4 linked regions of the Homo sapiens genome follow. The gene in region 1 interacts genetically with each later gene. Each region holds a gene or a part of one and is shown in the gene's direction. Other genes may lie near its edges.

Evidence for each region.
Region 2: changes in PRIM2 (region 1) and TRA2B together harm fitness more than expected from each alone (negative genetic interaction), as found in Homo sapiens cells (one large-scale study listed by BioGRID).
Region 3: changes in PRIM2 (region 1) and EXOSC9 together harm fitness more than expected from each alone (negative genetic interaction), as found in Homo sapiens cells (one large-scale study listed by BioGRID).
Region 4: changes in PRIM2 (region 1) and UBA2 together harm fitness more than expected from each alone (negative genetic interaction), as found in Homo sapiens cells (one large-scale study listed by BioGRID).

What each region holds. Positions count from the first base shown.
Region 1 is NC_000006.12:57,534,130-57,537,629, forward strand, and holds part of PRIM2 (DNA primase large subunit), read left to right. Parts: intron 1-3,310; coding exon 3,311-3,496; intron 3,497-3,500. UniProt on the Homo sapiens protein: Regulatory subunit of the DNA primase complex and component of the DNA polymerase alpha complex (also known as the alpha DNA polymerase-primase complex) which play an essential role in the initiation of DNA synthesis.
Region 2 is NC_000003.12:185,935,215-185,939,480, reverse strand, and holds the start of TRA2B (transformer-2 protein homolog beta), read left to right. Parts: upstream 1-1,466; 5' UTR 1,467-1,620; coding exon 1,621-1,656; intron 1,657-4,266. UniProt on the Homo sapiens protein: Sequence-specific RNA-binding protein which participates in the control of pre-mRNA splicing. Can either activate or suppress exon inclusion. Acts additively with RBMX to promote exon 7 inclusion of the survival motor neuron SMN2.
Region 3 is NC_000004.12:121,811,323-121,814,421, forward strand, and holds part of EXOSC9 (exosome complex component RRP45), read left to right. Parts: intron 1-260; coding exon 261-349; intron 350-1,911; coding exon 1,912-2,058; intron 2,059-2,543; coding exon 2,544-2,725; intron 2,726-3,099. UniProt on the Homo sapiens protein: Non-catalytic component of the RNA exosome complex which has 3'->5' exoribonuclease activity and participates in a multitude of cellular RNA processing and degradation events.
Region 4 is NC_000019.10:34,441,881-34,445,380, forward strand, and holds part of UBA2 (SUMO-activating enzyme subunit 2), read left to right. Parts: intron 1-1,963; coding exon 1,964-2,031; intron 2,032-3,119; coding exon 3,120-3,241; intron 3,242-3,500. UniProt on the Homo sapiens protein: The heterodimer acts as an E1 ligase for SUMO1, SUMO2, SUMO3, and probably SUMO4. It mediates ATP-dependent activation of SUMO proteins followed by formation of a thioester bond between a SUMO protein and a conserved active site cysteine residue on UBA2/SAE2.

The sequences.
Region 1 (3,500 bases):
TTCCGCTGTGGGCCTCTTCAAGTAGAGACAACTTTCCCCCCGAGTTCATATATAGGTATGCGGTGAGTGTCTTTCTTGGTCCGCATTTCTCTGCCTTCCATTGTTACAGCTCCAGCTCCTTTAAAGCCCTTGTGATCTTATTATATCATCTGATACCTCCTTTGTTGCTATTCGACCCCCTCCCCCCACACCTGTATTCGTTGATGATTTGAACACCTAGCTAATGGTCTTGTGTACTGGCGCTATTGTTGTTATTGTTCTTGGCCTCTGCAAGATCCAAGTTGATAATTTATCCCCTATCCTGGACTTATGATTCTTTTGTTTGCTTGTTTTCCATGATCATTTTTCTATCTGTATATAGCCAGACACTATCTTTTTAATTTTTATTATTTGGACTACTGCCCACACCTCTTAAGTATCCCTCCTGCTTCCATTCTTACTCTCATATAGTCTTTTCACTACATAACAGCCAGAGTTCTCTTTGTGTATTGAATCACATCAGTCTTCTGGTCAGAACCCTCTAGTGGGTTTTTATCATATGTAGACTTAAATCCAAACTCATGTTGTGGCCTCTGAAGCCATATGTGCTCATCATTTCTATTTTATCTTCTGCTCCATTCCGGCTCATTCACTTGCTCTGGTCACATGGATCTTATTCTCTCTTTTAGCACACCACATTTATTCCTTCTCAGGATCTTCATTTCACTAGAATCCAACTTACTTTGTCTTACTTGAAATGCCATCTCCTCAAAAAGGCTTCCCTGGCCACCCAAATTGAAGTACCTCTCCCCTAATCACACTTGATTTCATTTCTCTATTTCATTTCCAGTGTTTTGGCATCAGATGTTATCTTTTTAATGTCTGTATTCATTGTCCGTCTCCTCCTATTAAAAATAAGCTCTTCGAGGACAGGGTTTTTGACTTCTTTGTTCACTACTGGTTCCCCAGGGCTGTACACATAGTAAGTGTTAAATAAATATTTGTTGATTGAATGAATAAGAAGTAATCAAGGAATGTGCCAAAAGAAATAGAAATTGAGGTGGGTCTTGAATGATGACTTGGCTTTGGCTACATGGCATGTGCATGAGAAGGGTGCACCAGGCAGGGCTAGCAGAGTGAGAAAAATGAGAAGCTACAGAGCATGACTGCGTGGTCATGGGATATTGAATAATCCAGTGGACTGGAGCCGAGGACTCATTTTGGTGTAGTAATAATATACTGGGCTTTCCCAGGCTCCCTGTCACAGTGCTTCTGTGGTGCTCAAGTTTTGCCCTTGTTGGAGCCCTCATTTTATCATTTATTTCATGTGTTTAACTTACATAGTAGTGAATATAATAATTGTGGTGTCTTTTTCCTTAACTGAATTAAAGGGGACAATTAGGTCCTAGCTTATTTTCCAGAACACTTAATAAATAATTGTTCTGTTATGTATAATTGAAAAGTAGTTATTGGCCAGGCGCAGTGGGTCATGCCATCTGCAATCCTAGCACTTTGAGAGGCCAAGGTGGGAGGATCACCTGAGGTCAGGAGTTCGAGACCAGCGTGGCCAACATGGTGAAACTCTGTCTCTACTACAAATACCAAAATCAGCTGGGCATGTTGGCAGGCACCTGTAATCCCTGCTACTCAGGAGGCTGAAGCAGGAGAATCGCATGAACCTGGGAGGCAGAGGTTATAGTGAGCCGAGATGGCACTGCTGCACTCCAGCCTGGGCAACAGAGTGAGATTCCATCTCAAAAAAATAAAAAAAGAAGAAAAAAAAAGAAAGGTAGTTACCAGATATTGAGGAAACCTTGCATGTTCATACTAAGGATGTTGAATATTGATTGTATGGATTAGAACAATGTTTAGAAAAAAATCAGATATTAATATGAAGGAACAAAAATGGTCTCATGAAAAGGAGCTGAAAGGCTTTCTAGTTAGTTCTAGATATAGAACCAAGGGAGGATATAGGTCTGAATGAACTAGACTGGGGATGGAAAAAATCAGAAGTTGTTACTGTAAAAGAATGAAGAGAAACTAGATGGTCACTAGAGGGAGCAGCAAAGTCAAGCAAAGTGAGACCTGCTCTTTCTTATAGATGAAGTGAACTTGCTAAGGCATATGTGAGGGAGTAAGAATTTAAGTCTTGGGAGGATATTTAAGGAAGTCATAGAGAATGCAATTGAAACCGTAAGTGAAAAATTAAAGTAGGCAATGATATTTCATTTTTGGCACTAAGGCACTAACTACACTTTGTTCCTTTTAACTTGGTTTCTTTAACATATTTATTTGAATTTTCCTTATGAGAAGTTTCTCTTATTTTTGTATTCTGCTTTGTATTTGAGTTATCTTAAAAGTTCATCTGCTATTCAGCAATTGTACTTTTATCTCAGGGAAATGAAATCTTATGTTCACATAAAAACCTCTTCAAGAATGCTTATAATACCTTCATTTGAAATAGCCCAAACTGGAAACAACCCAAGTGTTCTTCAATGAGTGAATAAATAAATTATGATACATTCATACCATGGAAAACTATTAGTAATAAAGAAATGAGCTTATATACAACTTAGATGAATCTTGAGGGAATTCTGCTGAGTAAAAAATGACAATCTCAAAACAATACATATTATATGATTCTATTATACTCTTGAAATGACAAAATTATAGAGATGGAGAACCAGATCAGTGGTTGCCAAAGATTAGGGAGCTGAGGGAGGGGAGCAGGGTGCAAAAGATAGATGGGGGTGGTTATAAAATCATGAGAGATCCTTGTGGTGACAGAACTGTTCTGCATGTTGACTGTGGTGGTGGATGTATGAACCTACATGTGACAAAACTGTATAAAATTTAATACGGAAGTAAGTGCATGAGTACAACTGAGGAAACCTGAATAAGACTAGTGGATTGTATCAATGTCAGTATCCTGTTTGTGATAATCTACTGTAGTTGTATATGATTTTATCTTTGGGGGAATTTGGATATATGCTATCTCTTTGTATTATTTCTTGTAACTGTATGGGAGTCTGTAGTTAACTTCAAAGAAAAAGTTTAATTAAATTAAAAAAACAGGTAAAATAAATTTTAATAGTATGTTATTTAATCCAAAGTATCTAAAATATTATATTAACTTGTAACCAGTAAAAAATGTTAATAAGAAACATCTTATACAGATAAGAGTCATCTGTAACCACAGTAATAAAGTGGCACTTTCTTATGGTGTTTTTTTTTTATTCCAATTAAATTGAATTAGGAACCATAACAAATATTACAGGGGACCTGATAAGTCTTCCACTTAACTTAAAACTCTACTATTTTTTTCTTGTAGCTTTCTACCAAATCCTTCCCACCTTGCATGCGTCAGTTACATAAAGCCTTGCGGGAAAATCACCATCTTCGTCATGGAGGCCGAATGCAGTATGGCCTATTTCTGAAGGGCATTGGTTTAACTTTGGAACAGGCATTGCAGTTCTGGAAGCAAGAATTTATCAAAGGAAAGATGGATCCAGACAAGGTAA
Region 2 (4,266 bases), on another chromosome or scaffold:
GGCGCCTGTAATTCCAGCTGCTACGGAGGCTGAGGCGGAGAATCACTTGAACCCGGGAGGCAGACGTTGCAGTGAGCCGAGATCGCGCCGTTGCACTCCAGTCTGAGCGACAAAGCAAGACTCCGTCTCAAAAAAAAGAAGAAAGAAAGTATCCGACTTGGTCTTGGGCTCTTCTCACTATAATCCAACTATATTCTCTTACGAAATGGCAGAATTAATCTTCCCTCCTTGTGACACCCCTGTAGTTATACATGCCTCTGGCACTTACAATCATTTTTTCTAATTGTGTTTAACGGTTCTAGCACATTACTTTGTAACTTTAGAATAGAGATTGTGTCTGATTCCTGTGTATTAAGGTCCGACCTTTTTTATTTTTATTTATTTATTTTTTAGACAGAGTCTCGCTCTGTCGCCCAGGCTGGAGTGCAGCGGTCCGATCTCGGCTCACTGCAACCTCCGCCTCCCGGGTTCAAGCGATTCTCCTGCCTCAGCCTCCCGAGTGGCTGGGATTACAGGCATGCATCACCACTCCCGGCTAATTTTTTTGTATTTTTAGTAAAGACTGGGTTTCACCATGTTGGCCAGGCTGGTCTCGAACTCCTGACCATGTGATCCGCCTGCCTCGGCCTCTCAAAGTGCTGGGATTACAGGCGTGAGCCACCGCACCCAGCCGATCTGACCTTTTTTTTTTTTTTTTTTTTTTTTTGAGACGGAATCTCGCTCTATTGCCCAGGCTGGAGTGCAGTGGCGCGATCTCGGCTCACTGCAAGCTCCGCCTCCTGGGTTCACGCCATTCTCCTGCCTCAGCCTCCCAAGTAGCTGGGACTACAGGCGCCCGCCACCGCGCCTGGCTAATTTTTTTGTATTTTTAGTAGAGACGGAGTTTCACTGGGTTAGCCAGAATGGTTTCGATCTCCTGACCTCGTGATCCACCCGTCTCGGCCTCCCAAAGTGCTAGGATTACAGCGTGAGCCAGCGCGCCCAGCCCGATCTGACCTTTTTTAAATGAAGACGTATTCAGGAAGGAAATATCTACAAGTAAGACAAAATTAAGTAAGAACCCAATGTACGAACATTCACTTCTCTAACAAAGGAAAGACACAAAACAAGAAACTAATAAGGCGGAGAAAGGAATTGAGATTGGGGGAAACAGCATCTCCTTCCTCCCTGCACACTCGGCAGGTTCCCTGGAAAGTTCTAGAAGGGATTCAGAAGTGGCTGGTGACATCACTGTGGCTCCGTGGCGCCCACTACAGCAGCCAAACGACACGCTAGCTTTCCCGCCTCATAGAGGCTCGTGAATGGGGGTGGGGCCCTGCGAGGGGCGGGGTCACGTCACTTCCTGTGCGGGACGCGCTGCAGCTGGAGAGGAAAGGCAGAGCGAGGAGGGGCGAGGCCAAGAAAGCGCGCGTTTCTGGGAGGGGAGGAGCCTGGCTAAGGAGCGCCGCGTCACATCCGGTAGAGTTAGAGCCCGTGCGGAGGCGGTGCGGAGCATTTCGGCTCTGAGCGGCTGGGCGACCGGCGCGTCGTGCGGGGCTGCGGCGGAGCCTCCTTAAGGAAGGTGCAAGAGGTTGGCAGCTTCGATTGAAGCACATCGACCGGCGACAGCAGCCAGGAGTCATGAGCGACAGCGGCGAGCAGAACTACGGCGAGCGGGTACGTAGAGCTGCGGTAGGGGGTGGCTGTGTGGTCCTAGCTCCTTGCATCTTTTTCTAGGCCCGTCGGCCTCGGGCCAGGAGGCAGGGGCGTTTTAGGCTCCGAAGTCTGAAGCCGGGAGGGCAGGCAAGGGAGACAGCATTTAACCAAAAAAAGCCTTTGTGGATAGTGCCTTAGTGCCTTTGGTCGTGAAGGAGGGAGGCCCCCGGCGGGTTTATGTGGCTTCTGCCCGAGACGGCCGTTTTTCCCGTTATAAGAGGGGGAAGATGAAAATGGCCGCTGCGTCCCCGCGGTGTTGGGGGAGGGGAGCGATATCTTATTTCGGCGTTGCTCTCCTGCGAAGGTCCGCCGCAGCCATCTTGGGCTGGCGGGCTGGGCGAGCTGCCAGAGGCACAAAATGGCGGAGAAGCCGCGCGGCAACGCGGACCCGACCCGCAGCGGGCCGCGCTTCGTAAGGCCGCGTGGTGGGGTGCAAGGGGACAGACGACGTTCTTTTGGGTCTTTGGGCCGGTGTTTAGGTTAACGAAGGACCGTCTTTGCCTCCACGGAAAGGACGGAGTCTGGGATGTCTTTGGGGCCTCTTAAGATGGAAACTAATCCAAGGCCGACTAAGTTCTGGGCCCGTTAGGTGGAGGGGATTGCGTGAGGGCTTTGTGTTTGGCCTAAATGAAGCGCTTTTCTCTGATGCCGAAAGGGCTTCCCAGGCAAAAATCTGTATCAGTATTCTATTAGGACAGACCACAAAGTCGTTAAGATGATTTTGTGGACATCGCATTTCCACGGGATTGTGAAGGAGAAATTGGCGGGCAACCATTTACGGCGCCGTTATTTCCTTTGTTTTGAGGCGTTCTAATACTTAGAACCACAGCGTGTGTTGGCTACAGTTTTCTTTCCCTTAAGTTTCCACCTCTTAAAGGTGTTCAGTGAGGGTTGATTGAATTGCGGGAACAAGACAGTTCTAGGGTTTAAACAGCATACGTAGCTGGTCTGTGGGGCTCTGGGTATTGGATTCGGAAAGCATTGAATGATGCGAACATACGAGGCTTGCTAGAATTAAGAGGAATCTGTTAGAAGGGTGATAGAAAAGCACCATAGAAATTGATTTTTGAGGCTGTGGGAATAATTTGTGCTTTTTTAAAAAAAAAAAACAATTTGTTACCTAAGTTTCCCCTTGTTGGTAAAGCTACCTTAAGATCTGAATATGATTTATCAGGTAAATAAGACTATTAAATGTCTTAGCAAACTTTTGATTAAGATTTTATATGATTCCTCAGAGTATTTTAGGAAGAAATTTTCAGTGATGAAGCGTGAGTTTCCTGCGTAATTTTGGAGCCCAAACTGCTTAATTTGGTTTGAACTAATCAAGCCTTGCGTTTACATACTCGGATGAGCATAGAGTTTTTAGTTTTTGATGTTTTTCCCGAAGCCGATTGACTCCAATGTCACGAGTGTTTTAGATTTTTTTTTAAGTTCTTGCTTTCTTGGGTAAGAAAGTTGGGATTGAGCTCAAAAGTTGTTAAAAAGTCGTGACTTCTGATCATTGGCAGTTGAATCTGTTATAACAGTCATTGGTGTTTGGACTGCAAAGTAAGCGATTTTAAAGTCTTTTGTTATTAAACAGAAAAATTCAATTATTGGGTACCTTTCTACTCTTCAAAAATACTAAATGACTGGCTTCTGACTAGAGCTCTCGATTGAATACACGTGAAGAATGCTTGAGAATGGAAAATTGCCCAGAGTTCATTAGTATATTTTACGTGAGAAGGGAAACAATTGAAACTAGGTTCCAGTTTGAGACTCGGCTCAAGAGAAATTTGAAATTTTCTGATGGGTTATCTTTTTACTAGTAAAAGTACACTGTGTTTTTCGCAATCTTTGAATTGTAGAGGGAGGTTAACTTAATGTGTTAAAAATTGAGTTTTTTTTCTTACATAAGAGTCTTCGCTTTCTGGCCGAGATCTCTAAACTTTTACGTTGTGAAATACTTCCATATTGTTGTGTTTGGTGTTTGCGTGTTTGTGTTCCAATTGGAACCTTTAAGGGTTGGAATACACCTGAATCAAACACGTGTCTAGGCTTCCAAAGCAAGCTTGGGAAAACCATAAAGCTCAATGGAACAGCTTGATCTTAGACATGCCTGTGGTGTAAATGATGCTTCTCTGGAGCCAGAAAAATGAGTGTTATTCAACTCCAGGCTTCTGAACTGGGTCTTAATGTAAATCACTAATCTCTTCAAATCAGTGGAATTCTCCCTTATTTATCTGTCTCTAATCCAGACAACCCCACCCCTCTGTGCCCCACCTTTTCCAGTGACTGTAGGAGTTTGTTGTTGTGTCCCTCCCCTTTAAGGTTGGGTGTGTGGGATAAATTATTCTCAGTTTGATCACTCAATAGAATACATTTGGGTGAATATAATGACATTTAAAGAACTGGTGTGTCCCTCATCCCTCGTTGGTCTGTGGGATTTATTTTTTCCCCCCTCTCAAAGGTAATAGATTAACACTAAAATCTGTCTATAGGGGTCTAATTAGCAGGCTTAACCTGATCTGGCCAAACCACTTTCAAAAGTAAGATCTCGTTTTCATCTCCGGATTCAAGACTCTTCCCCCA
Region 3 (3,099 bases), on another chromosome or scaffold:
TATGTGTCTGTGGCCTCTTCTGTGGTATCTTTTATACTGTTGTATAAGAAAGTTTTTATGTCTGTTCCCTTGATGTGACAGTCCTTCACATATCTTAAAACAACTTTCACATCTTGCCTTAATCTGTGTTTACATTGTATTCATGTTTGGAAAAGTCAGGCTTAAATTATAAAGGTAGAAAAATTTCATGGTTTTAGTTTCATTAGAGAAAACTATTTGGTTTATTGTCTTTAAACAACAGAATTCACTTTTATAAATAGGTTCTGAGATGCAGTAAAATCGCTGGTGTGAAAGTAGCAGAAATTACAGAGCTAATATTGAAAGCTTTGGAGAATGACCAAAAAGTAAGGTAAGTAACTTTTCCAGAACTAAGTGGTCTTTTATTTTCATTTTTTAAATTTTTATTATTTTTTTTAGTATAAGCAAGCTTTATTATGCATGAACTTGATTTCACATACAAAGTTAGAATGGCAATTTCAATTAAAATTGACTCATTAAAAAGTGTAAATACCATGGTATAGTTATGTTACCCAAAACTCCGAAAGGTAGTGAAACTGGTAACAGATATTGCTACTCATCTTTGGACGGATACAATAAAAGTATTAATGAAACTGGTTCCCAGACAAGTATGTGTCACTTGCTCCTGTGCCTTAGGGAGGAGAGGATGTTATAACACAAGCATTATTGATGCAGTGACTTGTGGATAGTTGCTCCTTATTAACACTGCTAAAATTAGGTTCACGTTTTTTACTTTGTGTGGGAGCTGGTGATTCTTGTCCTTTTGTTTTATGAGGGATATCTTTCAAAGTGCTGGCATCAAACCCACTTATTGCAAAATGCATCACAGATGGGAATTTAAGTCTGGGTCAAGTCCAGAATTCTAAAACAATAAAGAGGAAAGACCCTCCTAAGAGCAAGAGGTCTTCATTAATCCAGACTCCAAGATACAACACAGGGAACAGGAAATGGCCCTAAATGGTCTTTTAATATATTTTTTTTCTTAAGGATCTTCCTTGAACGAGGGCAACCATATAAATTTCACACTTGATCTTTCCTTATTTGTTAATCTGAATTGAGTATACTATTTAATGTGTTTTTAGAAAATTGGACTTGTTATATTTTCTGCAATTTAAATGTAACCTATATTGAAAAATCATATAAGATTTTTGTTTGTTTTTTGAGATGAAGTCTCACTTCTCACTCTGTCACCTAGGCTATAGTGCATTTGTGCAATCTCAGCTCACTGCAGCCTCCGCCTCATGGCTTCAAGTGATTCTCCTGCCTCAGCCTCCCAAATAGCTGAGATTACAGATGCATACCACCATGCCCGGCTAATTTTTATATTTTTAGTAGGGATGGGGTTTCGCCGTTTTGGCCAGGCCGGTCTCAAACTCCTGACCTCAGGTGATCCACCCGCCTGGGCCTCCCAAAATATTAGGATTACAGGTGTGAGCCACCGTGCCTGGAGACATAAGATTTTTCTTTAGCAGTTAACATTTTCTTAGGATAAAAATAATCTAGTAACTCAAATTAATGGAAGGAAACAGGTTGATTTCCATCTCTACCTCTTACTGTGCTATCTTAAGCAAGATACATAACCCAGCATTTCAGTGTCCTCTTCTATAATATGGGATATTAACACTACCTGGTAGGGCTGATTTGAGGGTTAGAGAATAGTATATTTTAAGCACCTAGCACATGGTCTGGCACGTGGTTTAATAAATGATTATGCTAACTATTTACTCTTGTTAGGCATAATAAATTGGTGAGGTTAAGTTAGATAAACTAACTCTCTTCCAATATTTTTCATCCACCAAAGGATAAAATAATAGTTTTTTTCCCTTCCTGTCTTCTATCCAATCTGTTACCTTCCTCCCCCTTCCTTCCCACCAAAAAAACCCCCACATACAGGAAAGAAGGTGGAAAGTTTGGTTTTGCAGAGTCTATAGCAAATCAAAGGATCACAGCATTTAAAATGGAAAAGGCCCCTATTGATACCTCGGATGTAGAAGAAAAAGCAGAAGAAATCATTGCTGAAGCAGAACCTCCTTCAGAAGTGTATCTTTATTTGGTGGTTTTTGCAGTAACAAGATTCATAACACTTGGCATTATAATATTAGGCTATATGAAGGATGTGTATACTGAAATTAGTTTTTGTAAACACTGTACTTTGTTAGAGAAAACACTTAAAATACAAGATAGAGATGTGAGTCATATTCTGTTGATGGTATAACATTCAGCTTCTATTCAGTTATCCTGGAAAAAACAGATTTTAAGGACCAATTTAATTTAGTACTATAACTAAAATGTTGAGAGAATCTGTCTCTTCACATTTCTTATTAATTGCATCCATAAAATCTTGCCTGAGTTTTTTTTCTTCTTCATTGTTCAGCCATCCATAGTGTAGCTATATTAAGTTTTTTTTCCCCTAGGAACTTGGGGCACACTTGAATCAATCTTACAAGAAGAAAACTTTCATTCTCATCTTCAACAGTTCATCAAATAGCAATATTTTTGTTACTCAGTTTTCTTAACTTGTTAAGTGTTTCTACACCTGTGCTATGGACTCCTGGAACTGCCCAAATTGGAGAGGGAGTAGAAAACTCCTGGGGTGATCTTGAAGACTCTGAGAAGGAAGATGATGAAGGCGGTGGTGATCAAGCTATCATTCTTGATGGTATAAAAATGGACACTGGAGTAGAAGTCTCTGATATTGGAAGCCAAGGTAGGTGACACTTTATGGCACACTTACTATATATTACATACATATAGTATTACCGTATAGTTATATATATAATGCATAAAATGTGTGTATATTTATATTATCACTGTATATAGTAATATATAGCATATTAGCTATATAGAGATGTATAGTGGATAAATAACATACAGGATACTATATAGAGAGAATATAGATATGTAGTTATATATAGGGATGTAAGTATTGCATTTTTAGAGGGGCTAAATATTGTGATTTAAATTTCAACTAAATTATTGTGGCTAGCTGCAATACTAATGCTACTTTCTAAAAGAATATGCATATCTTTGTAGAGTAGTGGAACACTGGCATAAATGATAGTGATATTTTTAATTAAAAAA
Region 4 (3,500 bases), on another chromosome or scaffold:
ACTGCACTCCAACCTGGGGGACAGAGCGAGACTGTGTCTCAGAAAAAGACAAAAAAAAAAAAAAGATAATGTGGCCAGGTGCAGTGACACACACCTGTAATCCCGGCTCTTTAGGAGGCCAAGGCAGGAGGATTGCTTGAGCCCAGCAGTTTGAGAGCAGTGTGGGCAACATAGTGAAACCCCATCACTACAAAAAATTTAAAAATTAGCAAGGCATGGTGGCACATGCCTGTGGTCCCAGCTACTTGGGAGGCTGAGGTGAGAGGATCACTTGAGCCTAGGAGGTCGAGGCTGCAGTGAGCTGTGATCACACCACTGCACACTAGCCTTGGGGACAGTAAGACCCTGTCACACACACAAAAAAGATAATCTGGCAAAATTAATATGAGCAGCATTTTTCACTCGAAGGGAAACCTAAATAAGCAATAAGCAAGTTATGTTTTAATCATAAGACTTACTTGGAAAATTAAGTATAAGACCATAGTAAGCTACAGATGCTTCTCAGATACTTCCCGATAAACTCATCATAAATAAAAAATACCATTAAGTAAAAAATGATGCTTTTTTTGTTGTTGTTTTTTTGAGATGGAGTTTCGCTCTTGTTGCCCAGGCTGGAGTGCAGTGCAACTGCAATCTCTGCCTCCTGGGTTCAAGCGATTCTCCTGCTCAGCCTCTCGAGTGGCTGGGATTACAGGCGTCTGCCACCACGCCCAGCTAATATTTGTATTTTAGTAGATACAGGGTTTCACCTTGTTGGCCAGGCTGGTCTCAAACTCCTGACTTCGGTTGATCCACCCGCCTCGGCCTCCCAAAGTGTTGGGATTACACATGTGAGCCACCACGCCCAGCCAAAAATGCATTTTAATATAACCTCAATAAACCTGTTGTAAAGGTGAAAAATCATTGGTGGACCATTTTAAATTAGCGGCTGTCTACTATTTTGCACTCACTAGTTGGCAAAGCGTTAATTTTAGGAAGTGTTAACATGCCATTGTTGGGAGTGACTATCAGAGCTTTGAAATTATAGTTGGGTGGGGGGTTGTACAAAGGATTTCTGTAAGATAACTTTCATTAATCATATACTTGAGGAAATACTGGAAACTTTTATATCCATGAGTTATTAAACAGTTTTTAGGATAACTTTATTAATAAAAGAGAATCTCAGCTTAATACTTTCAAATTGTTTGTTAACACTCTGTTCAGCAGTAAAGAGCCATTCTACCATGAAAAAAAGTTAATCTTGTTCATTGCTGAATTTCTATCCCCTAGATGGGGACTCTGCACCTGAGGTATATAATAATGTTTGTTGAACAGGTAGCTGCAGGTGTAAACACAAACATTATTCTGGTGTTAGAATGTTATCCAGGTTGTAAGTGAAAACCACTCACCTGTTTCTTGAGCAGAGGTTTTAACATTGAAATGTGCAGAGCCTCGCTGATAGGAATGGATGTAGGTCTGCTAAAATTTAACCTTGCTTACATTGCTGTTGAAATTGGGATGCAAGCTGTCCAAGCACATTGTGTTAAACTTTTAAGTTTATAGTCATTTATCCGTTATTCACTTTTTTTTTTTTTTTTTTGAGACGGAGTCTTGCTCTGTTGCCCAGGCCGGAGTGCAGTTGTGCAGTCTCGGCTCACTGCAACCTCCATCTCCTGGGTTCAAGCGATTCTCCTGCCTCAGCTTCCCGAGTAGCTGGGATTACAGGCGTGCGCTACCACGCCTGGCTAATTTTTATATTTTTGGTAGAGACGAGGTTTCACCATGTTGGTCAGGCTGGTCTCGAACTCCTGACTTTGTGATCTGCCTGCCTCAGCCTCCCAAAATGTTGGGATTAAAGGTGTGAGCCACTGCGCCCAGCCAGTTGTTCAGTCTTTATCTCTGCTAAATATTTGGAATATTCTAAATTACATGTTTGTTTAGAATGCTTTGTTATACAGAAGTATTTACTATTCTTAAATTATAGCCAGTTGTTTGGGGAAGAAGATGCTGATCAAGAAGTATCTCCTGACAGAGCTGACCCTGAAGCTGCCTGTGAGTAAATTATTTGGCATATGTTTTATCAGATACTATTATCTTTATTTTGTTGATTTAATTTTGGTAGCTTAAGGGAAAAAAATTGCTATATGTGCTAGGTAATGTGTGTTTAACATGTGTTTTTTTTTTGTTTTTTTTTTTTTTTTTTTTTTTTGTCTCAGAGGTGGAGTTTCTCTCTTATTGCCCAGGCTGGAGTACAATGGTATAATCTCGGCTCACTGCAACCTCCGCCTTCTGGGTTCAAATGATTCTCCTGCCTCAGGCTCCTGAGTAGCTGGGATTACAGGCACCTGCCACCGCGCCCAGCTAATTTTTGTATATTTAGTAGAGACAGGGTTTCACCATGTTAGCCAGGCTGGTCTCGAACTCTTGACCTGAGGTGATCCACCCGCCTTGGCCTCCCAAAGTGCTGGGACAGGCGTAAGCAACCGTGCCTATCCAAAACAATGTTTTACAAAAAAAATATGATTCCGTTTTACTGATGAGGAAATCAAGGTTAAGAGAAATTTCACAAGTCTAGTAAATAGAGCTGCGAGTTGTTCCTAGATCTCATGACTGGTCTGTGCTTTGAACTGTTATATGTGTAGCTTTCAGAAACTAAGTTACAACAGGCCAGGCAAGGTGGCTCACGCCCGTAGTCCCAGCATTTTGGGAGGCTGAAGCAGCTGGATTGCATGAGGTCAGGAGTTTGAGACCAGCCTGGCCAACATGGCAAAACCCTGTCTCTACAAAAAATATAAAAATTAGCCAGGCATGGTGGTGCATACCTGTAGTCCCAACTACTTGTGAGGTTGAGACGGGAAGATGGCTTGAGCCCAAGAGGTAGAAGCTACAGTGAGCCGAGATCTTAACACTGCACTCCAGCCTGGGCAACAGAGTGAGACTTTGTCTCCAAAAACAAGAAAGAAAGAAACTGGGATACAAAAAGATGCTGATGAATGTGTTATTTTCTTATTCCTTGAACTCAGAATGTGTTGCATTTGGGGATTTCCATGAGTGACTTTCTTTTTATTCCCAAAGGTGAGTGAAAAGAGTTCAGTTCTACATTTATTACGGTTGAAAATAAAATAATGATCGTTTTATAGGGGAACCAACGGAAGCCGAAGCCAGAGCTAGAGCATCTAATGAAGATGGTGACATTAAACGTATTTCTACTAAGGAATGGGCTAAATCAACTGGATATGATCCAGTTAAACTTTTTACCAAGGTTAGATTTACTTTTTTTATAATCATGGATAGATGTATTGTTGTGCATAGATGTATTGTTCTAGTTCTGCTTGTTTTAAAATAGTCCATAAAATTGAATTAAGCTTCTATGTATATGCCTTGTGATGTCCTAATAAAATGATTGATGCAGTCAGGATATGCAAGTTTTAAAATGTTACCATCTACACTAAATCTATCAGTATAACATCTAAATAGGAGGTAAAATGAGAGGTGGCTTGTATACCTTCTTGGTTGTCTTT